7 linked regions of the Homo sapiens genome follow. The protein of the gene in region 5 purifies or fractionates together with the protein of the main gene of each other region. This does not show direct contact. Each region holds a gene or a part of one and is shown on either strand. Other genes may lie near its edges. The genes, in order: DCAF6, PLEKHA6, KATNB1, UGGT1, PFDN1, GIT2 and ARHGAP32.

Region 1 (4,464 bases), on a different chromosome or scaffold from region 5:
AGGGTTTCACCATGTTGGCCAGGCCGGTCTCAAACTCCTGACCTCAAGTGATCACCCACCTTGGCCTCCCAAAGTGCTGGGATTCCAGGCGTAAGCCACCGCGCCCGGCCAAGAGTACTGTACTTTAAAAAGTCATTTTATCTAATAATAAAAATAAAATTAATAATAATGATAAAGTCATTTTATCGCCACACACAAAAAAAGATGGTAATTATGTGACATGATGGATATGTTAATTAACTTGATTGTATATGAAGTTATCAAGTCCTACACCTTAAATATAACAATTTTTAATTGTCAATTATACCCCAATAAAACTGGGAGGGAAAGTCATTTTTTAAAAAAAACCATCACTAATTCAAACATTACCAATGTGGATTTTGCTGCTTCCTGAATGCAAAGCCAGGATTAGCACTGTAGTATAGAAGAGCTGAATAACAGTGTAAAGGTCTACTAAGGGTAAAGGCCAATAAATTAGTTCTTTGCAAACATTTTCAAGTTTCGATACTTTCAAAAAGTATTTTCAAGTACTTAGAAAACCACTTTTAAAGGAAGTCATTCCAAAAATGTCCTATTTTAAGAGTATATATTATCATATCTAAAATATTATTTAAGATAAAGAACTCCCTGTATGTATACATACACATTTGAAAAACTGTAATTCAGGCTTTCTAATATAGTCAGTGAACCCTTCAATTCCCCTAGACCCAATACACAAATTCCATTTCCATTAGGGAGTTGGAGTAGGAGGGGGAAAAGCAGGTATATGGTTTTGTTATATTTTAATTAACTCGTTTGTAGATATAGCTGAAGTAACTGAACCAAAAGAAAACACTAAAATATAGAACTATATACAAGTACTTAAACTGTCCAACTGAGATAAAGGACCAAATTATAAATGTATCCATGCAAAACAATGTTAACGTTTGTTTTATTAAGCTAAAATTAAGTTCTTTCTCCGCAAATAAATTCTAAAAGAAATACTGCACACTTTTTTTGGTAAATAGTTTTAAAAACCAGACTCCAGCTATGTTCAATTTTAAAATGATTAATCACCACTCTAGGTACTTATCCTACAACAAATGCACAGAAGCTTGTAGAATGATGTTCATTAAAATGCTGTAAGGGCGAACGTCTACTTAAAGAAGAAAGGTTGAGTACCCTATGGTACTTCATAATGTTACCTACTATGTAATAATTTAAAAGACAGAATCAATCTATTTTTACTGCCATGGAAAGATCTCCAAAATGTGGAGAAGTGAAAACAATGTTTACAATATGACACCATGCACTCAGGTGTCTCTCTCATACACACACAAACACACACACACCCCAGCATTTGTACATGTACATATGTACTTGTAAGAATGCAAACAAAAAGGTCTGGAAGAATATTCAGAAAACAGAAAATATTATTTCTAAGGGTGGCGGAGTGAAATTGAATGGGAGGGATCAAAGGGATTTTTGCTTCATTTTTATTGAGTTTTTATAAACAAAATGTATTCGTATTTTACTTGAGACACTAAAAAGAATTAAAAAATTGCATGCTAACTTTTCTTAAATAATTTACAAACCAGAACTGTTGGTTGTAATGAGATTTCATTTTCTTCTCTTTACTTGAAATCAAAAACAAATGAGAGCAACAAACACTTTTTAACTAGCAAGTGGCAAAACTGGAAAGAAAAAAATTTTATGATGTTGTTTGCCGTATCTCCAAATAGAAAGAAAGAGTAATGAAGAGTATACAGGAAGAAACAAAAAAGACCTTTACTAAGTACGTCCATTTTTAAGAAACCAAACTTTTTAGTTGACTCGGGCGTGACCTAGAATCCTCAAAAAAAAAATGTTATGCAAAACGAAAAAAGTGGAATACTGTTCCCCCAAGTACTGAAGGTTGTTTTTAGAAAGCTTAACTACGAAACTGTAAATGCCAAGTGTGTTTTCCAGGGGTGGGAAGAGGAACGTGAAACCCTACACCACCTTTAAGCGGTCAAAACGAACTGAAGAGCAGAGTGGAACTGGGAGAGCGCGCGGGGGTGGGGAGAGCTCAGCTATCACTTTTAGGTTTTGGCTCAGCGCCGCAAAAACAGTTTACACGGATTCTGTCTGGAGCGTGAAGTCCCTGAGGGTGGTCAACGCGTCGCAGCCGACACCTAAACCCTCTGGAGATTGAAGGAGAGGGTGGGCAACAACTTAGGTTCTTCGGCTGAGCGGGGAAAGCGCGCTGGAAAAGAGCAAAAGAGCTAACTTTTGCTCTAAACGCGGCAGCTCCTGGAGGTTCCGCAAGTCTCCCGAGTCCCAACCCATCAGCGACCCCAACACCTTTACAAGCCAGTACCTTCTGCCCACGGCCCGGCCCTCCGAGAAAAACCCAGCAAGGGCGGCGGCTGGCAGCATGCACAGGGGGCTTGACTGGGGGAGGCACCGGCACGGAATTCGGCAACCAAGGCCCCACCCAACACCCCAGAGTCTCCGGGCGCCCCCACCGAGACGCCGTCCCACCTCCAACAGACCCGGCAGCGTGCCCCCTCCCCCACTCTAGGCGGCGACCTCAGCGCCTCCGCCCCGGGGCCCCCGCTCACCCAGGTAGCGACTCCGCAGCCGGGACGGGTCCTCCAGCCCGAGGGACCTTTTCCTCACGTCCCACAACAGGTGTGGGTAGGAGCCACCCCGAGACATGGCTCTGCCTGAGCCGGGTGGGAGGGGAGACCACCGCGTGGGGGAGGGGAGGAGGGGGAGGGGACACCCGTTTCAACACCCGAGCCGCACCGGCACCATCCGCGCGCCGGGCCTCCAGGGCGCAGCGTTAGATGGCGGTGGCAGCAGCGGCGCCTGGGCCCCTGAAGCCCGGCCGCACCCGGGCCGGAGCTCGCCTCATACTCTCCTTCTTAGACTAACCAGAACATCCAAAGATCAGCAACAGTCTCCTCCCTCAGCCCCCCTCCAACAGGAGGAGGCGGAGGCGGAGGCGATGGCGACTCCTCCCTCTCCTCGTCCTGGATACCCTCCCCGCCAACCCTTTCTCGCGAGATGACGACCACCCTGGGGACTGAGGCTGGTGTGTGCTGCGGCTGCCCTCACCCTGGAAGAATGCATTCGGGCCACTCTAACCAGATCCTTAAGTCGCTAGGGATAAAAGACGAGTAGAGAGAGAAGCTACTCAATTCTGTAGTCTCTCGCTCACGAGTCTCCAGTGAAAAGAAGCAAGAGAATTGTGCGGCATCATCTTTAGGCACTGAAGGCCCAAAAACCCATTTTAACTACGGGCCTGCTTAATCAAAGTGAAAGGGCAGTAGAACCAGCGCAGCTTCACTTTCCCTTCTCCAACATGGCCTCGAGGGCATGGGGAGAAGGAGGAGGTTTCCGCTCGACCCCGCCCGCGCCTCGGGGCGGGCCAATCATGGCGGGCAGCTCGGCCTGCGCAAGCGCGCTGCCAGCAGGGCGCAGCGCAGACTTGGTGAGGTGATTATTTTGGCACCTGTTGCCATGGCTCCTCCCTCTCTCCTGCCGGGGGCCGGAGGCGGACCGGGGGCTGGCAGTCGGCAGCCTCCGCCCCCTCAACCTTCGCGGGGCGCGGGCCGCAGCTTTTCGGTTCACAGCGGGCAGGGAAAGCCGCGGGAAGGGTACTCCAGGCGAGAGGCGGACGCGAGTCGTCGTGGCAGGAAAAGTGACTAGCTCCCCTTCGTTGTCAGCCAGGGACGAGAACACAGCCACGCTCCCACCCGGCTGCCAACGATCCCTCGGCGGCGATGTCGGCCGCCGGTGCCCGAGGCCTGCGGGCCACCTACCACCGGCTCCTCGATAAAGTGGAGCTGATGCTGCCCGAGAAATTGAGGCCGTTGTACAACCATCCAGCAGGTAATGGACCCTGAATGGCTCCTTATCGAGACCTTCCTTCTCGCTTCCTCTAAAATGGACCTTTTAGAGGCCCTCTGACAACTGCCTCTAGAGGCATCCACAGCCCCAATCCCTTCCCTTCAAGTGAAGCCGTCTACTCTCCTAGCCTGTGCATTTCACCCTCTCTCCTGCAACATCTCTTCCTAAGCCAACGTATCTCAAGTCAGCTCCCTTCCCCACCTATGTGACATCCGCTCCCTTACGCACGACTCCAACCCAAACCTGATCTCCAGATTTGAGCCTTCTCAACTTCTGCGGCCACCAAACTGTCTGGGGCCACCATGAAACACTCATTCTCTTTCTCTTTTCGAATTGTGGCATATTAACCCACTCTAGGCAGAGCTGGATGGGTGGTTTGTCGCACTGTAGGGTTTGGAGTAAAGGTCACTTTCTTCAGCTGCTGCTGGCAGAGGCCTGCAGACTGAGCCCTCCCCCAAACTGCATGCTTTACTTCATCCAGGCTTGAGTCAGTGTCATTTCTCATCCCATAGGTCCAGTGTGTTTTTTTAAGTCTATCCTTATTTATGAAATTGTTGAACAAGCTCTACCCAGAGCTTTTTGTGTGGA
Region 2 (3,944 bases), on a different chromosome or scaffold from region 5:
GTGTGGGCTTGACGTTGCTGTTCAGGGGAGCCCTGAAGCTATCTCAACCCCCAGAGACCCAGGATTTAGGGCTCAAGGGGTCAGAGGCTGGAGTGAGGCTCACATCCGAGACTCTGAATCACTGCTAGATGTCCCCTGTTGAGTGGGCTAAGCTAGGCTACTGAGGATCTCACTGGGAAGTGTGCTGAGGTCCCAGAAAGCATTTAGTCCTGTGGCCTCTTTTCCTTGTGGCCTAAGAACTTTGAATTTCACCAGGCAGACTCTTTTCCCGTGAAATAGATGCATCAGTGAAGACCAGAGCAAAACCACAACTTGTCTGCAGTTGCAGAGCTGGTCAGGAGCAGAGCCAGGCTTAGCACTGCGATTCCCTGACTCACTCTCCACCACCAGCCTGAATTTCCCTGGTGCAAGCTCTCCACTCCCCACCCCTTGGTAGGCAGAACTGGGCATTGTTGGGTGCTGCCATTCCCGGGGGAATGCTGAGTAGAAGAGGACAATCTGAATATTCCCCCTTCCCTGTGCTCCTCACCGTTTCCTGCCACGTCGTCTTCTGTCTCTCCCTTTGGTGTTTGGTTGACCTGTTCTCTGCTTCTCCTCCTTCTGACCGCGTGAGGACCCCTCCTCTGGACAGGAGCTCTCTTCTGGGTTCCCGCCCGCAGTACCTGCTCGCAGCCACCAACTAGGTAGTGTGCCCCATCTGTATGCCAGTGCCTGCTTTGCATGCCTGCAGAGAGGGGCTTGGCTGTCTCTCCACGTGGAAGAGACAGTGCTAGCTTCTCAGCAGTGAAGCTGGGGCTAAGATTGGCATGTGCTCAGGGGGTCCTCTCTCCCAGACATGGGGTCATTGCCTTTGAAATCAAACATGGAATTTGCCGGGAGAATGGGTGTGATCATTGTCCCTCCTGCTTTAATTACCCCAGGTGGGGCAAGTAGGCTGACCTGGTTATTGGGCTGCCTAATGGTGCCCAGAGAGCCAGCCAAGGTGGATACGTGGGTACCAGCTGGAACCCTCGGGGTAGCTGCAAGCTGCCCTCTTCACCTTGCTCCTGAGCTCCGCATGGGGAAGAGCCCCAGGTGCAGGGAATGGCCCAACTGACTGCCCATTCTGTGGGCGTTGGTGTCTTCTCCCAACAGGTGACTGTGTGCTGGGTGGATGAGGCCGAGGCCAGCTCCACACGCTGCCTCTCCCCACAGGCTGAGCATGCCGGGGTCCGCACCTACTTCTTCAGTGCCGAGAGCCCCGAGGAGCAAGAGGCCTGGATCCAGGCCATGGGGGAGGCTGCTCGAGTACAGATCCCTCCAGCCCAGAAGTCAGTGCCCCAAGCTGTGCGGCACAGGTGAGTGCCAGGGAATTGAGTGTGGGGGTGCAGGAAGAATAAAGAGGGGAATGGAAGACACACCCAGCTCTGGGCCATTGCTAATCCCAGTGTGCCTACTTGAAGCCCTGGAGAATGTGTGAGCCGTCTCCTTGCATCCAGGCGGGAGGCCTGGCTGAGTGATTTCAGAGCCTGAAGTCTCTCTTCCCCTAGCCAGCTCCTCCTCTTCTCTCTGAGCTCGGGAAGGCCAAGAGAAAAGCCAGGTTCCATTGGGGTCTGGCCAGGAGCCAGAGGTCAGGGTCATTTGCTGGTTTTTCTCGGCTGTGTGTGTTAAGCACACCGCCTTTGGAGGAAAATAAACTCAGGTTTGAATCACACCTTGTCCACTTGGCTGTAGCGTGATCTCAGTGCAAGGGACTCACCCTCTCTGAACCCGAGGTTCCTCTGCTCAAAAACCAGCAAATACAACTCTACCTCATAGGGTTGTTGTGAGGCCTACACAGAGTGCGTGTAAAACACTCAACATGCAGTAAACTCTTAACATATGGCCGCTCCCATCGCCCGCCGTCACCCACGGTCTCAGCGTCTGTCTCTCCCTTAACTGGATGTGGAGTCTTGAGTTAGGTGCTAAGGGGGATCCAGGAAAAGGGGGTTTCACAGTGTAGGCTCCAAGTCCACATATCTTAGAAATGTTTACCAAGCAATGTTTCAACAATCCCACTTGAATATGTGGAGTTTGGGAAGCTGTAGGGGGAAAATTGTCACAAATTTCCATCTTCGCTTCAACCAAGGGGCATAATTCCAAGAGTTCATTCATTCATTTCACAAATACTTACTGTAAATATAAATGTGCAAGGCACTGTAGTGGGTGCTAGGAACACAGGGGAAGAAAGTCTGCCATGTTCCTACCCTTGTGGGGCCTGTATTCTCATGGAAAGTCAGTCCTGGAAGAAATGTGTTTTGGAGAAGGGAACTAGCGTGTTTATGTGCTTGTGAGTTTGAAAGCAGAAACTTCTGCTCCTGGTGCCCGCCATGTTTTATCTCACAGCAGTCCTAGGAGGGGAGCTATTATTATGCCCATTCTGCTGATGAGGAGCCCAAGACTCTTGGCAGTTAAATAACTTTCTATAAGAAAGACAGCTGCCCCGTGACAAGCCTTTGTCACTGGAGTATCAAGGACAGTTACTGATGTGAGTGCAAACCCAGTTTGGGGAGCTGGGTCAGGGATAGATCGCAGAGAGGACCAAGACTAGGTGAGGTTAGTCATGCCATAGCTTGAAGGCTGGGCTCAAAGCAGACTGACAGAGGGGAGTGGGGTGGAGAATGACCTGCAGAGAAGACGTGGGGGGCAGAGTTAACACAGCAGGTGTGGGCAGGGGCGGATTAGGTTGTATAATAATTTCCCAGGCTGGAGCGAGAAGGTGAAGGGGTGGGACTTAGGAAGCAGAACTGGAGTTCATAGAATCCTGGTTCCAGCCACCTCCCTGCCCATCCTTCCCCACTCCTCTTCTTCCCAGTCTGGCACCCCCTGCCCCACTCCATGCTGGGCTAGAGTCACTGACAGCATCTCCCTTGGCATCCTGCAGCCATGAGAAGCCAGACTCGGAGAACGTCCCACCCAGCAAGCACCACCAGCAGCCACCCCACAACAGCCTCCCTAAGCCTGAGCCAGAGGCCAAGACTCGAGGGGAGGGTGATGGCCGAGGCTGTGAGAAGGCAGAGAGAAGGCCTGAGAGGCCAGAAGTCAAGAAAGAGCCTCCGGTGAAAGCCAATGGCCTCCCAGCTGGACCGGAGCCAGCCTCAGAGCCGGGCAGCCCTTACCCCGAGGGCCCAAGAGTGCCAGGGGGTGGGGAACAGCCTGCCCAGCCCAATGGCTGGCAGTACCACTCCCCAAGCCGGCCAGGGAGCACAGCTTTCCCGTCTCAGGATGGAGAGACTGGGGGACACCGGCGGAGTTTCCCACCACGCACCAACCCTGACAAAATTGCCCAGCGCAAGAGCTCCATGAACCAGCTTCAGCAGTGGGTGAATCTGCGCCGGGGGGTACCCCCGCCTGAAGACCTTCGGAGGTGAGGCATGCCGGCGGCTGGGGTGGGGCTGATATGGTATTATGGCTAGAGCGTGCGAGTGGGGTCATAGCCCACGAGGCATCCCCTGTTGGAAACCTTCTGGAAGCAGGCTGAGTTGGGAAACCAAGCAAATCCCATGCTTCCTGGCTTGCCCAAATCCTGCCTGCCCCATGGCTCCACCATTAGAGTCTGGCTGCTGTCCCTGATTCTTGGTTTCTTTGTCTGCTTCCTTCAGAAGAAGGGACAGAGTGCCCCAGTGCCTCTCCACGGCGTGCTGGGGAGCCCAGAACACAGCAGGCTTTGGGAGGGGGCCTGAAGTTGTTATAGTCATACATCCATCCAAGCTATGGGCCCTCCTACAACATCCTCTCCCCAGTGCTCCACCCACTTGAGACTCACTAACTGCCAGACCAACTCATTCCATTTTTGAACAACTCTAATTGTTTTAAAGCCATGATTTATATGAAGTTAAAAAACAAAACAAAGTAGCTCATTGGTCCCAACATGGCCATCTATGACCATTTACGCCTTTATCCAATGACTGACTTTGAAATATCTG
Region 3 (3,944 bases), on a different chromosome or scaffold from region 5:
GGCGAGAGATGGCCGTGGGTCCTGTGGCACCCAGCCTGGTCCCCACCCCGAGGAATCCAGAGGGCCCAGGGCAGGGAGGGCGCAGCAGCGGAGATGGGAAAGGCCCACCCACAGCCACGCCCCACTGCCGGGAGGAGCGCTGGGCCGCCCACCCCACAGCCTGCGTACCTGACGGGCCCAGGCTCCCCTTCGATGCAGCTCACCACCTGGAACTTCTCCAGGTCCCAGAAGCGGATTGTCCTGCAAAGGCAGCCAAGCTGTGCTGCGAAGCCTATCCCTCATCCTGGCCTCCACATGTCCCTGGGAAGCCAGCTTTTCTCTAGAAACCTCTCCCCCAGGGCAGGGCCACCAGGAGCAACATCTGGGGCAGAGCTGGCCCTGACTTTGCAAGGGGGAGGCTCGGCCCGATGGCCCTGGCCCCAGGGTTGGCCCCAACAGCCACGAGCCTCCCTGCCCTATGGGGTCCCACTAGATGCCTTGGGTCCCAACCTGCCCATGAAGCCACAGACCTGGGACACTGGGGCCAGGGAACCAGAGCCAGGGGAGATGGACCAGGGTCCAGTCCTGGCTCGGCTGAAATCCAATTCAGTCCACACAGGATCATCAGACGTATGACACCCCAGACAGCGACAGACCGGCAGTAGAGACACGCACAGAGGACAAGGCGGTGAAGGACAGCAGTCACAAGCAACTCGCCTCGCTCCTCCTCCTCACCTGTCAGAGCTGCCGGAGGCCAGGAGGTACTCGTTGGGGTGAAACTCGACCACGTTGACAGGCCCCGTGTGACCAGGGAACTCAGACATCATCTTGCCGGCAGTGAGATCCCAGAGCTGGAGGCAGGGCAGGGAGGAGGTCAGGGTGACCAGGCATCTTGGCTGCCCACCCTCCCTCTAATCCAGGCCAAGCTCTTTATCCACAAGCTACCTTCCACTCGGGATAGGCTTGGGACATGTGAGCCCGATCAGGAGGGAGGTGAGGACTCAGCCTGCTGTGATCAGCAGACCCCAGCCCCCAGCCCCTGGGCCCAGGTCAGGCCGGGAGCTACCTTCACGGTGTGGTCATCTGCGGCCGACGCCAACCACTTCCCATCGGGGCTGAACCGGAGACACCGCACGGCCTGGCTGTGCCCCTGAGGGAGGACACGGCATGAGCTCACCCTGGGATCCTGGGCCCAACAGACCTCTCCCTGCCTCCTCACTCCTATGGGACCCCTTCCATCTAACAACACTGGTTACCCGCCTGGTTCTGCTTGGAGCAGTTTGATGAACGTGGCTCTAGGGGATTCATGCAGAGCCAGGGGATCCAGGTGGGCCGCCCATGGCGCTCCTGCTCAGCTCCAGGTCTATGTTTTATGTTATCACCCATGTGGGACAGCCGTCCCCTCCACCCCCTGCTGGGGTCTGGGCACCACACCACACTCAATGCCCGCAAGGTGCTCATGGAGTCACCGACAGAGCGCATCCTTACCCTGTATCGGAAGACACAGCCTTTCCTCCTGATGTCCCAGAGCTGTGGGGGAGAGAGAAGCAGAGGGGCAGAGTCAGGAGAGGTCAGAGCCACGACTGGAGGAAGGTGTGCAGTCGTGAGCAGACGGTGGGGCCCAGCCTTCTCTAGGTCGTTACTCCCCACGGAGACAAGGACAGAAACTGCTCACTAAAGCTGGCATTCTGAGCAGAAGCATCTGGCAGATAGATGCCTGCCACCCGCTTTCCCTAGGATGGTGTGGATGTGGCTGCAGAAAGGGAAGAGGTCCCCTCAGCAGGCATCCAGCACTGAGGGCCGGGCCGGGCTGGTCCTGCCACAGGCCCAGCAGGAGACACGGGGCACGGACCGGCCTCTCACCTTGATGTTTGTGTCCTGGGAACCAGAGGCTACAAACTCGCCGTACGGGTGGAAATCCAGGCTGCAGATGTTGGCTTTGTGTCCCATGAGTGTGCGAAGAACTAACAAGAAGGAAAGCAGAGACAGTGGCTAAGAGGCAAATGAGAAGGCTGGCAGAGGAAGGGCTGCTGTGGGCATTTGTGTGTGCGCTTTTGGATTAGCTGCACAGAAAAATAGAACAATAACACACATTTTTAAAACAGTAGGAAACAATCAAGGGTCCCACCACCCTAACAACGAATTTTCTTTTCTTCCTTTTTTTTGAAAAGGAGTCTTGCTCTGTCGCCCAGGCTGGAATGCAATGGCGTGATCTCGGCTCACTGCAACCTCTGCCTCCCGGGTTCAAGCAATTCTCCTGCCTCAGCCTCCCAGGTAGCTGGGATTACAAGCATGTGCCACCACACCCGGCTAATTTTTTTATATTTTTGGTAGAGATAGGTTTTCACCACGTTGGCTGGGCTGGCCTCCTGACCTCAAGTGATCCACCCGCCTTGGCCTCCCAAAGCGCTGGTATTACAGGTGTGAGCCACTGCGTCCTGCCAACAACTAATTTTCCCACATTTCTCTTGAGAGGTGACAGCCCTATGTTACCTCAAGTCTGCAGAAATTGTACCACACTCTCCCCACAGACTGTGCTCCAGCGGAAGCAGAACCAGGGAACCACCACACTCAGTTCAGGCCCCATGGGTGTGGAGCTTATGGTTTGCAGGGCACTGAACCCCACCCAAGACAGTGCAAGGAGAGAGACAGACCAGGAGAGGTTCAAGCTGGGAGAGAAGCTGCTTGGTTGGAAAGAGAAATCCAGGAAGGCTTTATGGAGGAGGTGGTATTTGAGTAGATGTCAGTGGGTGGAGGATGAGGGATGCTGTTAGGTAGATGGAGGTGATGGGCAAAGGCCCTAAGAAGGGCAAGTGGAGGGCATGGCTGGGGTGGCCCTGGTGCACACACCAGTCTTCTTGGGTGACCTCTGTCCAAGGGATCTTGAGGGTGGCTGTGAGGACACACTGAGGAGCAGTGAGAACTGAGAGGACACAGGGAGGACACGCGAGGACCAAAGAACTCCTGGGGTGGGGCCTGATCGCCTCCCACTGCCCTAGGAACCACATCTCCTATCCTTTCCTTGAAGGTTTTGCAGGCATCTCCATGGCCAGGAGCGGCCCAGCCTGGAGGCAAACCTTGTGTGTTTCAGGGTGTCCTCCAGTACCACTCAGATTTGTCTCATGTTTCCTGCTTTTGGAAAGATTCATAATTCACTATCTGAATGAAACTGACCATCCCAAGTGCCAGGGTCAGGAAATGTGGGAGTCCAGCCATTCTTAGTTTTGAGCCAAGGTGCAATAGGTCACCTTGTGAGGTAGTGAGCTCTCTGTCAGAGGAGGTATTCAAGATTCCATATATAACACTTTACTGCAGAGTCAAGATCCAAGCACTGGGTGAATTAAATGAACTCTACTGTATGATCTTCTCTACCCCCAAAGTCAGGATGTGGGCTCTGGCATCAGACAATACTGGGATCAGCCTTGGCTCCGCTCCTCACTGGTGGTGTGACCCTGGCCAATCACTTACTGTCTTTGGGCCTCATGTTGGGTCACAGAATGGAGTAAACATACATAAAGTGCTTAGCACGGGCTCTGCACATGGTAAGTGCTCAATAAATGCCAGTCTTAATTAGTCCCATTCACATTTCTTCCTGCACAAGGCCTGCCTTCTGCTCTTGGCTGTCCCGCAAGCTGGGCCTTCTCTCCTCCTCCCCAGGCCTCAGTGCCCCTCTGCAGCTGGCCCTGTCTGGCGCTGGAGCTGGGTCTGGATACTTTCACATCCCTCTGGAGTCTGTCGAATGCATATCCAATTCACCTGCACCAGAATCTCTGCAGCTGTCACTCCTTGCTCCGTGTAGCTATCAGGTGCTGCTGGGGGCTGGGCATTGCCTCCTGGCCAAGGAGGCCACGCTGGCTCTTGCTCCAGTCCACACCCGCTCCCAGCCCACTCAGCTTGGATCCCACAGCAAGGCTTCCAAAATCCTGCCCTGCCCAGAGAGGATGTGGCGGAGTCCCACCCTGTGT
Region 4 (4,422 bases), on a different chromosome or scaffold from region 5:
ATTCCCCCTCTCCTGGCCACGTGCAGGCTTCCATGCAGCTCCCTCAAAAACACTAGCTCAAGCTCCTCCCCTCTGCCCACCCCTCGCCCCTACTTAGTCCTCAGGCTTCAACCTAAGCACCACCTCCTTGTAGCAGCTTAGTCCTGGTCCTGCACCTTAGGGCCCTCTCTTGCGCCTTCACAGGCACCAGGTGCCCCTCCCCGCCCTCCCCATCATCACACAGAGACTACATCCTCAATGCATATCCACCCCGGAGTAGGAGCTCAGAGAACTGGCAAAATGCAAAGTCCATGCCACCCTCCTAAGGAACTCTGCCGGCCCAGGGGTCTCATGACACCTTCTTGCCTTGAGGTTCCCCCTCCCACCCCACCTGTTATGCCTGCCTGCCAAGTTCTGCCTGGGGCAGCTCCCAGAGGTTGAGGACCTGGAGGAGACCTGGGTGCTTTGGATCCTCAGAATCCAAAGAACTGGATGCAACCCGAAGCCAGCCCCAGCAGCAGACAAGACTCAGGTAAAGCCCTCGTTCCTCTGTCTGGGTTTGCAGCTTCTGCTAGATGAAGGGGTTGGACTTTGTGCTCTATCAATCTGCCCTTCCTAAACACAAAGGCCAAATGACTGCGCAGTTTTAAAGAAGAGAGGAAACGTTTACTGTGTTGAGCAGACCTTATTTTCATTACAGTACCAGGAAGTTCATTCTCAATTCCCTTCGAACGCAGAGATTCTGCAGACATTTAAAAGCCCAATGCTGTTCCCAAGCAAGAGGCAGCACCTGACAACAATGCTGCATTTAATGGAGCAGGATTACAGTAACATTGGATATTCATAAAGAAGATTTTTAAAGTACACAGTTTCCTTAAAAATTATAACATTTTCCCACCTTTATTTTATTATTACCACGAATAACTGGTTGGTTGGAAAACATGGTACTTGATAATCTTTTGTTGTCAACCTTAAGTTAATGTATTTTGCTTTCTGCTGTTGTTGTTAAGAGACGTTATGCCCATTTCTCTGGAAATCTCAATGGTGACAAGTAAGGCAAGGCATACAATACATTCCTGTCCCACTGCAACCTTCCACAGCTAGCCTCTGCACTGCTGGGTATCTGGGAAAGACTCAGGAGAGGACCTTTTGCTTGCAAATCCTCAAACTCCTGACCTCGGGTGATCCGCCTGCCTTGGCCTCCCAAGGTGCTAGGATTACAGGCGTGAGCCACCACGCCCGGCGCTTGCAAATACCGACCACAGAGTTTAACCTTCATGGGCTCCTTCTAGGAAGCAGGCAGCCACTTGCCACAGACTTTGCAGTTTGTTTTTATAAATTGTCACTGATCAATGACAGCCTGAGGGAATGGGACCCTCTACTCAATTCATTGACTTCCTGCTTCTACTGCCTCCCAGAAGTGTCATTTCATTTCTGTATATAGAGAAATGAAAGACCAAAGAATGAAATGAGAAATCTGTATCCTCTAGGCATTTCAGGTATATACCCTGAAATATCAATAACCACTGAAGTTCATGATGTCTCATTTGCTTGAATTCAATCAGTTAATTACCAAAATACTGATTAAGATCTTTCCCTCACTACCTCAAGGCAGAGAAAACATGAATTTAAAGAAGTTATCTTACCAAACTACACACATGACAAGCTTTATTTGATTAACTCCAATCATCCCACAAAAATGTGCCCATAAAATCAAGTACTTAAAAAACTAATTATTAAAATTACACAACAATGGGACAGGCGCGGTGGTTCACGCCTATAATCCCAGCACTTTGGGGGGCCGATGCGGGTGGATCACTTGAGGTCAGGAGTTCGAGACCACCCTGGCCAACATGGCAAAACCCCGTCTCTACTAAAAATACAAAAATTAGCTAGGCATAGTGGCAGGCACCTGTAATCCCAGCTACTCAGGAGGTTGAGTCAGGAGAATCTCTTGAACCCGGGAGGCAGAGGCTGCAGTGAGCTGAGATTGTGCCACTGCACTCCACTCCAGCCTGAGCAACAGAGCGAGATTCTGTCTCAAAAAAAAAAAAAGCAAAAATTAGCCGGGTGTGGTGGCGCACACCTGTAATCCCAGCTACTCGGAAGGCTGAGGCAGGAGAATCACCTGAACCCAGGAGGCAGAGGTTGCAGTGAGCCAAGGTCACACCATTGTACTCCACCCTGGGCAACAAGAGCAAATCTCTGTCTTGAGGGGGGAAAAAAACCACGCAACAATGGAATACATATATTTAAATAACTGCACATAATACACCCTCCATTTTTGTTACCAAGAGAAAGCTTCCATCAGGTAGCTTTACCAATACATTTCCATTCCCATGAAATGCAATACCACAGTACTAATATTCTATTCAGAAAAAGACTACAATTCCCTTGTAACTCTTTTTCTTTTTCCCTTGTAACTCTGAGTTCTTTCTTTTAATCGTTCAGGCCACATAGGTAAGGCCATTTTAGAAAAGGACTGCTTTCAAGTATCTAAATATACTTCCGGAGGGCGGGGGAGGAAGGGAGTCATTTTACACTTGTCACTCTCAGGGTGATGTCTGACTGTCCAAGTCACGGGGTCAGTAGAGCAGGTTTCCTGGCTAAAGGAAACTCTGGGAGTTCTTTCCTCCCTACCACCTGGGCCAGTCTCTTCCCCCTGTCCCTAGCTCTTGGCCCTCTACTCAGGGACTTGGTCCCCACAATCAGATGAAAACTCATTCAGGCAGAGCCTTGACAAGGTTCAGAACACGAGGGCTTGACCGGACATAGTGGCTCACGCCTGTAATCCCAGCACTTTGGGAGGCCGAGGTGGGCAGATCACCACCTGAGGTCAGGAGTTTGAGATCAGCCTGGCCAACCAACATGGTAAAACCCCATCTCTACTAAAAATACAAAAATTAACCAGGCATGGTGGCAGGCGCCTGTAATCCCAGCTACTCAGGAGGCTGAGGCAGGAGAATTGTTTGAACTTGGGAGGCAGAGGTTGAAGTGAGCCAAGATCGCACCACTGCACTCCAGCCTGGGTGACAGAATGAGACTCTCTTAAAAAAAAACCCACGAGGGCTTAAGGACAGCAGAGCAAATTAAGCTCCATTTATGGAAACTGTTTTAATTTTTTTTTTTTTTTTTTTTTTTTTTTTGAGACGGAGTCTCGCTCTATTGCCAGGCTGGAGTGCAGTGGCATGATCTCGGCTCACTGCAACCTCCACCTCCCGGGTTCAAGTGATTCTCCTGCCTCAGCCTCCCGAGTAGCTGGGACTACAGGTGTGTGCCACCATGCCCAGCTAATTTTTGTATTTTTAGTAGAGACGGGGTTTCACCGTGTTGGCCAGGATGGTCTCTATCTCTTGACCTCATAATCCGCCCGCCTCGGCTTCCCAAAGTGCTGGGATTACAGGTGTAAGCCACTGTGCCTGACCGGAAACTGTTTCTTAACATACATCATGCACGTAATCTTCGCTCTCCCAAGAGGCATTCACCCAAGCAGACAGGCAAGCATCTATGTGTTCAATTCGAAATGCAACAATGACAGATGTACAACTTTACCACTCTTAAAGAAACTAACATGCCATCCATTATTCTCCATGTGGGAAACATTCAGTAAACTTCTAAAACCAAACACAGGACTCTGGCATATCCCCACACCCCCAGCAGCAGGCTGTGACAGGCTTTGATCTCAATCAAATGCCACTGTACACAGAACATAAAAACAGGCTCAGGATGCTGCATGTCACTCTGACATATCACATTATTTCATATTACTCTGTCACTTACTCACAAACAAAAGTCTCCACTATGGCATGATTGAGAGAGAAAATAATTCACTTTATATAAATAACAGCTAAGAACAACATACTGTGAACAGTTTCCAGAGTTTGAACATTCAGCACAATCAATTCTTACTTCTTGGGAAAAAAATATCTTACCTATCTTTTCTGTTACAGTATGCCTTCTTGGAGAAAATATTTTAGTGGTAACATCATTTTCTGGGGCATTTGGTTAATTTTGAAAGATGATTATGCCACATGAACCAAAAAAAAAAAAAAAAACTGGCAGGAGGAGGAGGGTCCTAGGCCATTCTGGAAGCAAGCTGGGTTTTGCATTATTCAGAGTCAACTATTAAGCTGACTTATATTAGAATGGCGACAGATAAGAGGCAATGAGTGACACCAGGACATGCACAGCACACAGAGAATATGGTCTACTCTTGTCTTCCCTGCACAGATTAAACATAAGAGGCTTGGTAGAAAGACATGGGGAAAGGTGCTATGGGGGCCAGCATTTGGAAAGCATATATCCCAGTGACTTGAGTATTTGCTATGCAACCTCCTGGACGAGAAACTGGGAAAAGGCACACTTCCGCCCACAGTTGTGGACAGCAGCAGTCACCCGTCTGAATGCTTTCATTCAATGTGAAGATGCAGCTTGAACAAAAGT
Region 5 (4,598 bases):
ACGGAGATTGCAGTGAGCCAAGATCGGGCCATTGCACTCCAGCCTGGGCGATATAGCGAAAACTCCGTCTCAAAAAGAAAAAGATACTTACTTTAAACCAAAGTTTCTTTTGTTTTGAGACAGAGTCTAGCTCTGCTGCCCAGGCTGGAGTGCAGTGGCATGATTTCGGCTCACTGCAACCTCCACCTCCGGGGTTCAAGCGACTCTCCTGCCTCAGCCTCCCAAGTAGCCAAGACTACAGGCAAGTGCCACCATGCTCAGCTAATCTTTGTATTTGTGGTAGATACAGGGTTCCACCATACTGGCCAACAGGCTGCCCTCAAGTGATCCACTCGCCTCGACCTCCCAAAGTGCCAGGATTACAGGCATGAGCCACCACTCCTGGCCTAACCCAAGTTTTAAGATGAACAAATTCTATTTAACTCGGACAAAAGCACTCCCAAAATAACTCCATTAAGGACACATTTTACTTACATTCTTCCTACACCTTCATACATGTTAGTCTCATCTACCAAAGTCATGATCTCTGTATCTGTAAGATGTGCATGCTTTTTCGTTCTGTTTAGCTGTTCAATCTGTATGTCTGCGAGCTTCACCTTCTGTTGAGTGTCAATAACTTTGGCTTGAAGCTCTGTGAAGGCCTAATAAAAACAAGTCCATGATTTAGTAGGTAAAACATTTTACAGGAAACATTTACCTCAAATCCAAATATATTAAAACAAAATATGCTAGCCAGAGACAAAGCTGTGAAATTTACCAAACATCAATAAAAGTCAACATAACTGTAAACAATCAAGTCACCATACTAAATACTGAATTTACAATCATCAGAAGATACAATCAGTGTGAAGCAAATCAAATGCATATTAAGTAATAACCATATTAAGTAGCAAGTACTCAAGGAGTAGTAAAAGAAATAAATGCAATAGTCAAGGATGAAATCCAGAGATTCAAAACAAGAACCATAAAAGTAATAACTCACTACATTTGTATTGCACAATTAGGTTTCAAAGCACTTTCTCACATTAGTTTGAAATATTAACATGGGAATATTAATATAAGAATATTAATGAGGAAATATAATAAATATCTCATTTATGCCTCTCAGTAATTCCATGAGTTAGCATTGGCAGTCTCATCATCCACAATTTACAAATTAAGTAACCAAATGAGTTAAGAGATAAAAGTGGCTTGCACAAGGTTGAACAACTACTGGGGGGAAGGCAGGTGTTATTTAAATCCATTTCTTCTAACCCCTTAGTTCAGCAATCTTTCCATTCCACTGTCTATAGTAATATTCATAATATGAACATTTTTAAGAGGAAGACCAAGAAAGAGAGTGAGAAAAAATGCAAAGCACTGGCAAAAGAATTGCATCATGATCTTCATCCACAGATACCAGGCCAAATTTGACCCTTGCGTACACTTACTTAACTGGAAGATAAACAGTTCTTGGATACTTTTGTTGAAGTGCCTGGAATGACTTTCACATGCTGTTAAATTTGTGCCTTAATAACATCTGTGACTGCAATGCACAGCAAAGGCTACTACATAATTTTTATTGTGACCTTGTTTTCACCTACTAGTAAGGTTTTGAAAGATTTACTTTGGGGAAGGGGAGGGGCCTGAAATTTCCTATTTGTCTCCACCCAAAAAAAGGACCCTGTAAAAACATTAGAAGATAAAACCTTTAAACAAGTTTTTTAATTAATTGGTTATCAAAATTATTCATTTTAAGTTTGTAATCATTTTCTTAGTTTGCATTCACCGCCCGCAAGTTTCAAATGTAGCAATAAATTCAAAAGTACCGGGAGGCAAATCCATTCACTAAACCCTGATTTAAATCGGTACTTTTAACAGAAGAAAAGGTAAATTTTTAGAATGCACAATTTTGTTTTGAAATGTAAAATTCCAGGTATCATCTGACTGCTCTATACAGCTTGCTAAGGAAGCTAGTATACCATTAAAGATGAGCTAGTATACTGTTAAAGATTAGAGACTCCACCTAAGAGCTAAATTTACAAGATTCAAGACAAGAAGAACAAAAGCAAGACACAAACACATAATATCCTCACAACACTAACAAAAGCTTCATTTGTTAGAAGCAACAGCTATTTCGGCTGTCCTATTTCTTTTACACAAGTTGACCACAGGCAGTCTTAACTAAGATGTTGCTCATCTGAAGAACTCAAAATAGTGGTCAAAAAAGTGTGAGATAAGGCAGAGAATACTGGATTCTAGTCCCAACTTCTGACAGACTTTTCTGGCACTGGTTCCTTTTCCAGAAAAGTAGATTTAAAATAGATAAATTCTAGGGTCCTTTCCAATCCACCCCACCGCACAAAGCATACTGGTTTGGGGTCATTAGTGGTGTTAGAATGCTGATCATTCTTAGATAGCAAAAATCTGAATAACAACACATTTATAAGCAACTGAGGAAAACAGGAAACCCAATTCCTTCCGATACCGGTTTTATTTGGAAAACTTTACTGGTTTTGTTTTGTTTTTGACAATTCCTTCAAAAGAAGGAGGTTTTGTTTTGTTTTGTTTGACGAGTCCTTCAAAAGAAGTGGAGGGGGGGCAAAATCCTGAAATGAACATTGCTGCTACAATGCTTGGTTTTCCGAACTGTAGATATTGCAACTTTCAAGGTACAGAACCGAATAAATGGCCTAAAAACAAAGGTTGGACTTGGAGTTTTTCAAAGCAAATGAGGCAGAATTACGGATGCCACAGCTCAGGCAAGGGGTCCGAAGGGACCCCCATTTGAAATGCTCTCTTTAGTTCTTACTATGAAAGTGAGTCCCTGAAGCCTCCAAACGCAACGAAATGTCTCTGGAGCTCAGAAAGACTGGACAAGCCCGAGACAGGCCCGCAGACTTACCCGACCCAGACCAACCGGCTCCTACCCAGCAAGAGCCGCTCGCCCCCCACCCCGTTTATGGAGACCCAGTGAGGCCTTAGGACTCTGGGAAACCATTCCCTAGTCCACTGGACCCTCCTTCCTTCTGCAAGGCTCGTGCCTCACTTGATATTCTTGTCTATAGTCCCCTCAGCCTCCAAAAAGAAGACCTCCGCCTGCCAAAGACCCTCTTTTACCTTCTTCAGCTCTAGATCCACGGGGGCGGCCATCTTGGTGCACTGTAAGCGCCTGCGCAGTGGGAGTTGGACTGAAATAGGGTGGGGAAGGGCGCGTCTTACTTTGTGCGCCGGTCTTTCTTCTGCGCCTGCGCATGAGTTGGACTAACCGGGCTTCTTATCTTTCTCTGAGAATTGACTCCTGAAATATTTGGGTTTCGGATTCCGTGTCTTCACTACCTGACCGGTCAGGTCTGGCTTGCTCCTCCGTATCTTCCAGACATAGCCCAACGCGCAGATTTCCCATGTGGCTTTAAGCAGTTTGCCAGCTAGCTTAATATGTGCTGCTAAATTGAGATGTATGTAGATGAGGTCAAACCCTCATCAGTCGATCAGTCCTTCAGCTAGTCGCTGTGCTCTCAGGAATGAGTAAGAGTAAGTCCAGAACCTCAGGCATGACAGTTTGGGAAAGACTATTGGAAAGCTTGTCTGGAGTGTTCTTTCCAAAACGAACTTATTACTTCCAAAAGCTTCCCAAAGACATTCTAGGCACAGTGGTTCTCAAGAGAGGCTGAATACGTTTGTTTAAAAACAAAAAAATGCAGGTTCTCTGGGTCTCATCTCAAACGTACTCAGAATCTTTGAGAATGGGGTCTGGAAATTTGCACTTTTGCAGACTACCCCAGTGACCTAATGGTGCAACTCCTCCGCGGATCACTTTTTTGAGAATCTCTGCCATAAAAGGACCTGGCATTTGAACCAGAATAGATAATAATTGACTTTTGGAAATGGAAAAAAAAGTTAACCTACTCTAAAAACTGTTATGCTAAGAGAAAGTGCTACATAAATAATTAGGAAATTTATTTTATTTTTTAAAAAAAGAAAGAAAGAGAGAAAGAAAACAAACTGTTAGGGAGATGAAAGGGCAGGGAATTTGGAACCAGCCTAATCTAGATTCAAGGCTTGGTCTGCCTTTAGCCTATGTCTGGTTCCATTTACTAATTGTGTGACTTTAAGCAAGTCACTTGGATATTTTGTGGGGTTTTTTTTTTTTTTTGTACGTTTGTTTGTTTCTTGAGACAGGATCTTGCTCTGTCACCCAGGCTCGAGTGCAATGGTGCAATCACGACTCACTCCAGCCTCTACCTCCCGCGCTCAAGCGATCCTCCCACCTCAGCCTCGTGAGTAGCGCTGGGACTACAGGCGCGCGCCACCCACACTCAGCTAATTTTTATATTTTTGTACAGACGGGTTTTCACCTTGTTGCCCAAGCTGGTCTCAAACTCCTGAGCTCAAACAATCCGCTCGCCTTGGTCGCCCAAAGTGCTGTAGTGCTTTGATATTAAAGGCTTGAGCCACCGCACCCGGCCACATTTTTTTTTTTTTTTTTTTTTTGAGCCAGGGTCTCGCTCTGTCACCCAGGCTGGAATGCAGTGGCACGATCTCGGCTCACTGCAACCTCTGCCTCCCAGGATCAAGTGATTCTCCTGCCTCAGCCTCCCGAGTAGCTGGGATTACAG
Region 6 (3,944 bases), on a different chromosome or scaffold from region 5:
TGGACTTCCTCAAAACAAAATGTCTAACCACTTTAAAATTTGTCATGGTGGGGCTGGGAAATGTTTGCAGGCAAGCTGTACACTGGATTATTACTAAGGCTGTTTCAAGCAAGAGTTCGAGATCATTAAAACATCATTTAGGTAACTTGCTTTTCAAATGAGCCCTGAGCAATTTGTAAAGGCCAAAAATGACAGCAGACACCATGGAAGCAGCACAAAGATGACTAGGGTTGCTTTGCAAAGCAAGAAAGACAGAAGTTCAGCTTGTGAAAAATCAGATCGCCTATTGCTTTCCAAAAAGCCAACAAGAAAAATTATGATCAACAAGTTTTTATTACATAATACTCTTGATATTCCAAACAATTCAGCACTTTGTAAAAAAAAAAAGAAAAAAGAGAAAACCGGATCATGGTAAGTTTGCTATATTAACATATCACGAAGAAAACTGGAAACCTATTGATCTATGGAATTGACATCTTCGCATGGATGCTCCACGCAGCACGCTTGCTTCCGTCTGGTGAGTGATCATCTTTCGGCCAGGGCTGGAATATTTGGCCTTTCTCTCCTTTGGCTTTGTCACCCAAAAAACACGACCTCAGTGGTGTCAGCTTTGAACATGCTAATCTGCCTGGCACCACCCCATTTTAGAGACTGTCACTTGGAGGCCCTGAATGCTCCTTCCATTCCTCACATGCAGGCTGCTCCATGGTGCTGGATGGATTAGAGTTAAGGGGTCAGCAGGGAATCGTGTTACTCTTTGGCATCTGGCATTTTAAACACCATTCACCACGTCCATTCTGCGCAGGGTCCTTCCCTTCTGGTGCGCCTTCATCTTCCATGGACATTCTATAAGCTGGGTGTGGTGTGAGTTCAGCTGTCTACTCTTTGACAGAGATTGTAAAATCTGACCAAATTCCCCACCAGTGCCAAGGTTTAAGTCCACAAGCAACTGTTTGCACCAGAAGATCATTACTTTTTCAGTAGCAAACCCATTCAATGTTAGGAGTTACTTTCAATTTTTATTTAGAAAGCACCAATCTGTGAAAAATACACCAATAGTAGTTGCTCCTCTTCATTAATTAGCATCTTTTCCAAGCAACTGTTAAATGTGAAAGATCAGATACAAATCATGCTACTTTGTCAACTTTATGTATATTAAAAACTTTACCCAACTTTGAAATATAATCAATACATCTTTGCTAAATAAACAAATTCCATATACTTTATATTAATCATGCCAAACTGCTGTGAAAGTGTGACTTACTGCCTCTTCCACAAAAAGACCACTCATTCTGTTTCTCTGAAGAGCAAGCCATTACAGAATGATAGAATGCTTTTATATCACAAAGGCTGGCAGGGTATAGCTCATATCTGCAATTCCCTTTCCAGGGAAAGAACAGCTGCAAAGCAGCTGACAAAGCAGCCCTGAACATTTCTACATTCCAGGATACAGACAGGCATGAAGTGCCTGTTGAAACTATTCATTAGAGAACCCAGGGCCTAGAGTGAAATGGTCAAGGTTCAAGGACTGAGGTGTGTAACTGACACAGGTCCCTCAATGGGGCACTGGTGCATGTGATCACGTGTTTGTCTGTATAAAAAGCCTCTGTGGCAGTTATTTAGTTAAGGCCTTGAAATCTGAAACTTTATCCTAACACTTTTCATGCCTGGATTTTGTCTGAATGTGTTCTCATGAGCACAAGTTCTTGGTTTCAATTTTTAAAAATGTTAGTACTCTGTATTTAGAGAGATGTCTTCACATAAATTTTAATGACGTTTATCTTAATAAGAACCAGGCTACACTTTTTTATTTGGAAGGAGTATAAGGGAAAATAAAAAGTTATAGACAATTCAATAGTTTCAGAAATCAAAAGCACTTCTAAGAATTGATGAGATAATCAATAAGCAAAAGCAAATAATTTCACTTTGCATTTCTCAAAGAAGCTCAAGACATTTGCTTTCAGAGATAATGAGGCTCTCTCTGGTGATTTCCAAAAATACTAAAAGAAGCATTGTTAGATTTTAAAAGGTGATGTGCAGCAGATTGATTTACAGTGGCAAAATCAGCATGTTTCAGAAATAGTCACCTGGTCAAAATTATTAGTCCAATTAATGGAACAAACTATAATCCACTAAATAAAATATATTCCAAAGAAGGCAAAGAAAATACAGGTCCTGTATGTTATGACAAAGGGGCTCTCGGTCTGTCTCGTTTACAGCTGCACGGCAGCCCTAGACAGGGCTGGGAGACACAGAACAAGTGTCTGTTCGTTTAAGGCTAGCTGATCTTAAGCATTCTTCATTCCCTGCTACTATAGGCATTAGAGCCATTTATTTCAAAAAGTCTCAAAAATGCTCTAGAAGTCAACATCAAAAGAATCCTAGACCAAACCCCAGGCAAAAGTGCACAGCAATTTCCTTCCCTAGTAAACAGAGGGGCATGGGCCCCTTTTTAGTTCTTCCACCTTCCTTTAGGAAGCAGCACTGAAAAGAGTCCAGGCACACATGGAGTGTGCCACGTCCTCAGGTCTTGAAAATGATTTGAAAACCTTACTTCTCAAATGACAGCCTAAAGACATAGATTATATATTTCATTTTGTTTCTGGTTAAGTAAAGTGTCCAAATCTCATTTTAGAGCTGAATGATGAGTGATACCCACAAAGTCATGGGCAAAATTTGCAATTTTTCGAATTCCCTTATTTAGCCATCTCATAAGGAGTTGCATACACAATCCCCCTCCTACTAAGGGTATTCCTTGCTACCATCAACCACACTCCTTTTAGGGATTAATATATTCACACGGTTCTGATTCTCTCAAAAGGTAATGAATGAGAAAATGCTGAGCAAATGAGATTGTTTTTTACCAGTGTGCAGCTCTTCCTAGTACAAATGAAATGTTTTTTCTTATTTTTTGAGCACCTACTCTGTGGCAGGCCCTCCTGTAGGCTCTGGGGATAATACAAGTTAGTAGTAAAAACTGGTGAGCAATAAGGTGGGGATGTGGGATAGGGCTGCCAGGGTGGGAGCAGGGTTTGAATGCTGATAAACATGCCCCTGCCCAGGGCTCTCATTGGCTCTGTCTCCATGGTGTGATCATCCTTCCCTAGCAATGGGAAGAATCACATCCATGGAGCCCCATCCAGGTTTCCAGGAAGCACAGAATAGTCCAAGGGTTATTCTAATGGGCACAAATGCTTAAATAGATGTTAGGTTTCTCCTACCTGGGGAACTTACTCTGGATATATTTCATTTTAAATATCCAAATACATCCTGCTTCAAAAAGACAACTTGGCCCAAAGATTTCTAAGGCTGTTACAATAACTGTTTTTCTTTCCTCGGACCACATCACAGTGCCTGAGATTCTTCCTTGTACTATGGGATTAAAGCGTCAACCGTCCTGGCATTTATTAACATGTTACCTTTTTCTGCATAATTCTCAGCTCGTCACTCAAGTTGTTATTCACCTTCATTAGCTGCTGTATCTTGGCCTCAGAAGCCACTAGAGCGTTTTTGACCTCCATAAATTCCTGTACAGTGACTGGTCCATCTGATAAATCTGAATCTAGGCTCTAAAAATAAATTGGGAAAACGTTCACAATCTGAGATGACGAGAACATTAAAGACTAACAGCTCAAGAATTTCAAATTCTGACCAAGCCAGCTGAATTGCAAAGTTAGTCAAACCAAATCAAGGCCTCTGAGAGTAATGCAAAACTAAAACATAAAAGTAGGGTCACTATACTATTTAAAAAATTTGAAAGTCAGTATTTTCTAATAGAACAGGCAGTGAGGCTACACATCTATGCTGACAATGACTGTCTAAGGAGGTCTGTCCTGTCTTGTAAGCCTTTCTCTCGTTCACTCTTGTTTTGTTTTTATTCATTCTTTCATTAATTCATTCATTCCAACATTTTCATTGAACATTAGGCAGTGTTCTAGGTGCTT
Region 7 (3,944 bases), on a different chromosome or scaffold from region 5:
TTCCTCAAATAGCGTACCCCTGGGCATAACAGGATGTGTCATGAAAACATGTGTCCTTTGGTCCTAATTCCCCAAATCAATCACCCCCACTATCTCATTATAATTCATATTAGGTCAAAAAGGAAACACATACACAAAGCAGTCTGTTTTAACCTGAAATAATTCTGTTGATATTTGAATCACTTTCAGTGGGACATTTGCTTTAAACCACAAGATATCTCCATCTCCAGGTACAAAAATCCCTTCCTCCCTCCCCTGCCACCCCCCACCCCACCCTGCAACCAAAGAAACAAACAAAACCCAAACCCACAACTCAGCTTCAAATAAGTTTGCAAGAAATGAGACTCTAAATATTTACATATGGGGCAAGAAATAAATCACAAAACTATTTACAAAAATACACAAGCTTATATGCATTAACAATTTACACCAGTTCACAAAAATATTAAGACATAAAAAAACACTATATAAATTAAAATTAAAAACTCAAAAGTATGATCTAAGACTTCCTAGGATGCTTCTCTCATGCAGGTCATGGTTGAAAAATCAGGTTTTGCTATCTCAGAATCTAAACTGTAAAACCATTTTTATTCTTTGAACATTAACAGTACTAATCAGATAAGGAAAAAAGACCCTCTGTGCACACTGACATTATCTTGCACACGTTATAATACACCATTCCTGACATTTCTGTAACACACAGTGCTGAAAATCACATGCCTCTAACCATGTGGAAGAAGTAACTGTCTGACATACTTTTGCTTTCATTATTACTTTCTTACACATTCTGCTCAAGCAGTACTTTGCCAACATCCTAAATGGGTGACTGACAGGGCTGAAAACAGAGAAATGGACTTTGCAGGCTCCTTCTTTAACTAAAGGGGCAAATTTCAAATTTACATCGTTTGCATCTATTACTGCTCCAAATGTGGTAACCTACTCCTCCGTCCCCACTCACGTTAGTTAACAGTCCCTCCTCTCTACAGAATTAGTCCTAGAATTTTTCAACCTGACCCTAAATTTTAAAAAATGCTTTGCCATTGTAAGAAATGTGCAGGCCCTAGTCGTGGGACCATCCCAGGGACTTGCAGGTTTGAAACGAAATTGAATATAGTAAGAAATAAGGCTCCAATGAAATTTATTAATAAGAAAATGGCACCTCTGGGATTGTTAGCAAAATTTTTAGCCAGACGTCCAGGGAATATTTATTTCAATCAGACCAAACTGTGGAATCAGAATTTTGCCAAAAAGATAAAATCTGGAGGCATGGCTATGAAAATGTCAATAGGATTAAATCACGGGTTTAATGTATAAGGCAGCTCCATTTCCTTGATCATAATGCTCCATGTCAAAATTTGAAAGTAATAACATTCAGTTACCCCATTTGTGAAGTCCCCCATTTGTGAAGTCACACACAAGGTGGACTGTGCTGAGGTATCCGGCTCACAGTGATTTGCCATCCGGTTTCCACCCCACAACATTAGAAAGGGAAAGATGCCGGAAAAGTGTTTCAAATAACTGAATCCAAAGTTAAGGCTGTTGCTAGCATGCATTAAATGAAGCAACTCTAGATTTGATCTGAAGTTTGTGTTTCACGCTTGTAACAGTAATTGCAATCATCATTCTGTATTCAAATATTTACCTGATATTTCTAAACCCACAGGACATTTATTAATAAAGAAATTGTTTCGAGGAATTAACCCTACTATTTATAAAATAGGTTTTAGTTTCAGGACTAAACAATGTGTGTGACAACAAATCCACAAATATTAAAACTGGACCGGACTCCCTGGGTTACTTTCTTTAGGCTCTCAGTTACTTAAAGCCGTGTGTATCTCCTGGTCACAGCAGCCCCTCTTCCTAATCTCCATGCTGCTGGTGAGAACTTACAGGGCTGGTGTGGTCTCCAAGGGGCAATGGGTTGCCTACTTGACAAGAATATGATTAAGGTAAAAAAAATTAGTGCCACATATTCACCAAAGGTCATACTCCTGTATGTAGCACCCAGGGTGTTTTTGTGCCAAAGGGAAGTATCCTATCAGGTTTCCTAGCACTTTGACTGTAAAACAGTTGGTTCTGCACTTTTAATGTAGAGGCCTCAATTTCCACAGACCTTTTCACATATGGGTGTTTCAAGGTTTCTACTACAGTTTTTACTGCATCCCTCCAATGAATTCTAAGGGAACAAAAGAAAACCTTATAGAATATTTCCACATATCAATGTGTTGTTCTTGAAACATTTTATTTTTTTCTAAATATAAACCCTTAAAATGCACATTATTTTTTAAAATAAAAACTGGCATGAATCCTAATCTTTATACAATTTCACAGCAATAATAGCAGCATGATTTTAGCCTCTTAAAAGATTTCCTCCTTTGCTCTAAATAAAAATTAATTTCAAGTTCTAAAAAGCCAGAGCAGCAACCATCCAGTAATTGGAATGCAATTCTCCTAGTGTCTTCTACAGACCGAGCATTTAAAATACGTGAATGTATAAAACTTGAGTATTATTAAGAGTTATGGAATGAAATGACAATCTAAACTCGTTTTGTAAACATAGGACTGCCTTGCTAGTCTGATGTATTTTGGGGGGTGGAGGGAGCTGAGAACATAGAATGGAGTTGGGCTAGAGAGTTCCTACTCTAATAAGGAATGCAACTTTCAAAACTCGTGGGTGTTAAACATGTTTTACATGTCTCCAGAGTTATAAAGAGCTATACCTGAAATGCTGGTGTAGATGGTAATTACAAGAAGACTGTGACCACACAAGTATAGAGTAAGCAAACGACAGTAATGCCTTAGGACAGCAATAACTGCCCAGAACTCCACTGGTGAAACGGGGCTGTGAACTAAGCAGTTATTGCAGGAACTTGCAGTCTAATAATAGATAATGCGTAGCTACTTAAATTCCCAGGGACCTCGTACTCTGGTTTAGGAACAGAAACAAACATGGAAATTTATATTCATAATAAATTATGCGTGTCTATCCAGTCAAACCATGCTGGGCTTTTTTTTTTTTTTTTTTTTTTAATGAAAGAAAGTTGATAATTTAGGAAAACCAATGGTATGACATGTTTTACTAGAATTACAATTCACCAAATCTTATTGAGGGGTGGGGTAAGAAGAAAACCTGAAGGCAGGCAATGCATTAAAAGCATCAATAGAGATTTCTGGTGCTAATAAAGTTCACTGACAATAAGAACTTTACTTTCTTCCACCTAAAGAAGTTTCCTTAAGTACTAACTTTTAAAAGTCCATTCTGTCATGATATGAGCCTGTTCACTGAACCGTGAGGAACAAGGATGAAAAATAAGAATAGAAAGAGTATGGTTCAGCCTGAGTCTAAGTGGTCTGGTGTTTTATGATGACTCTACCAAATGTTTAATTTAAAGTCTTAATTTCTTATTTTTAATTATAATGTTGCCAACTGTCTGACTGACCTTGAAGGATCAGGGATTTTTCCACGACTCTAACTGAACACAAGATCCTTCTCAGACGGGGAGAATGAAGTGACAACAGTGTGTCGATCTGCGCAAGTTGTGCAGCTACTGAAGGAGAAGCAGGAACACAACAGGGAATGCAGACGCCTACCAGGAAATCGATGTGAACTGCTCTCAATTATGCAGCAAATACTAAGAAGAAAGGACAATGCTGAATTCAAATTCAGTTAAAGGCAGTCCTCAGGCTCTTTCAAGCTAGCCCTAGATGGCAAGTGTGTCCTGAGACAGGTTTCTCTACTGGGTTTCAGCACGGGGCTTTACCATCCTTCAGATCTTTTCTAAAGACAAAAATGACAAAGTCTATAGATGGAAGAGGGGGTAATGAAGCAGGGAAGGGGAAAAAGATGCTGATTTGTTTACTTTTATTATCATTTTTTAAATGTGGTCAGGGGTTTTATAGTATTTTTTGTTTAATCTTTTTGGTTATTGAAAAAAATAGAACAG

Evidence for each region.
Region 1: the proteins of PFDN1 (region 5) and DCAF6 purify together in Homo sapiens (co-immunoprecipitation; 2 studies listed by BioGRID and IntAct, with this or other methods). This does not show direct contact.
Region 2: the proteins of PFDN1 (region 5) and PLEKHA6 purify together in Homo sapiens (affinity purification with mass spectrometry; one large-scale study listed by BioGRID and IntAct). This does not show direct contact.
Region 3: the proteins of PFDN1 (region 5) and KATNB1 purify together in Homo sapiens (co-immunoprecipitation; 2 studies listed by BioGRID and IntAct, with this or other methods). This does not show direct contact.
Region 4: the proteins of PFDN1 (region 5) and UGGT1 fractionate together in Homo sapiens (co-fractionation; one large-scale study listed by BioGRID). This does not show direct contact.
Region 6: the proteins of PFDN1 (region 5) and GIT2 purify together in Homo sapiens (co-immunoprecipitation; 2 studies listed by BioGRID and IntAct, with this or other methods). This does not show direct contact.
Region 7: the proteins of PFDN1 (region 5) and ARHGAP32 purify together in Homo sapiens (co-immunoprecipitation; 2 studies listed by BioGRID and IntAct, with this or other methods). This does not show direct contact.

Annotation. Positions count from the first base shown.
Region 1 is NC_000001.11:167,935,127-167,939,590, reverse strand, and holds the start of DCAF6 (DDB1- and CUL4-associated factor 6), read right to left. Parts: upstream 2,909-4,464; 5' UTR 2,680-2,908; coding exon 2,583-2,679; exon of another isoform or gene 2,519-2,582; intron 2,513-2,518; exon of another isoform or gene 2,339-2,512; intron 1-2,338. Other genes in the region: MPC2 (mitochondrial pyruvate carrier 2), read left to right, coding at 3,750-3,858. UniProt on the Homo sapiens protein: Ligand-dependent coactivator of nuclear receptors. Enhance transcriptional activity of the nuclear receptors NR3C1 and AR. May function as a substrate receptor for CUL4-DDB1 E3 ubiquitin-protein ligase complex.
Region 2 is NC_000001.11:204,258,699-204,262,642, reverse strand, and holds part of PLEKHA6 (pleckstrin homology domain-containing family A member 6), read left to right. Parts: exon of another isoform or gene 1-683; intron 684-1,134; coding exon of another isoform or gene 1,135-1,194; coding exon 1,195-1,337; intron 1,338-2,902; coding exon 2,903-3,385; intron 3,386-3,944.
Region 3 is NC_000016.10:57,748,826-57,752,769, reverse strand, and holds part of KATNB1 (katanin p80 WD40 repeat-containing subunit B1), read right to left. Parts: intron 1,944-3,944; coding exon 1,843-1,943; intron 1,510-1,842; coding exon 1,468-1,509; intron 1,130-1,467; coding exon 1,046-1,129; intron 831-1,045; coding exon 715-830; intron 241-714; coding exon 169-240; intron 1-168.
Region 4 is NC_000002.12:128,191,879-128,196,300, reverse strand, and holds the end of UGGT1 (UDP-glucose:glycoprotein glucosyltransferase 1 precursor), read right to left. Parts: 3' UTR 624-4,422; downstream 1-623. UniProt on the Homo sapiens protein: Recognizes glycoproteins with minor folding defects. Reglucosylates single N-glycans near the misfolded part of the protein, thus providing quality control for protein folding in the endoplasmic reticulum.
Region 5 is NC_000005.10:140,299,942-140,304,539, forward strand, and holds the start of PFDN1 (prefoldin subunit 1), read right to left. Parts: upstream 3,161-4,598; 5' UTR 3,133-3,160; coding exon 3,100-3,132; intron 642-3,099; coding exon 475-641; intron 1-474. UniProt on the Homo sapiens protein: Binds specifically to cytosolic chaperonin (c-CPN) and transfers target proteins to it. Binds to nascent polypeptide chain and promotes folding in an environment in which there are many competing pathways for nonnative proteins.
Region 6 is NC_000012.12:109,947,748-109,951,691, forward strand, and holds part of GIT2 (ARF GTPase-activating protein GIT2), read right to left. Parts: intron 3,570-3,944; coding exon 3,420-3,569; intron 1,100-3,419; coding exon of another isoform or gene 1,076-1,099; exon of another isoform or gene 1-1,075. UniProt on the Homo sapiens protein: GTPase-activating protein for ADP ribosylation factor family members, including ARF1.
Region 7 is NC_000011.10:128,964,918-128,968,861, forward strand, and holds the end of ARHGAP32 (rho GTPase-activating protein 32), read right to left. Parts: 3' UTR 143-3,944; downstream 1-142. UniProt on the Homo sapiens protein: GTPase-activating protein (GAP) promoting GTP hydrolysis on RHOA, CDC42 and RAC1 small GTPases. May be involved in the differentiation of neuronal cells during the formation of neurite extensions.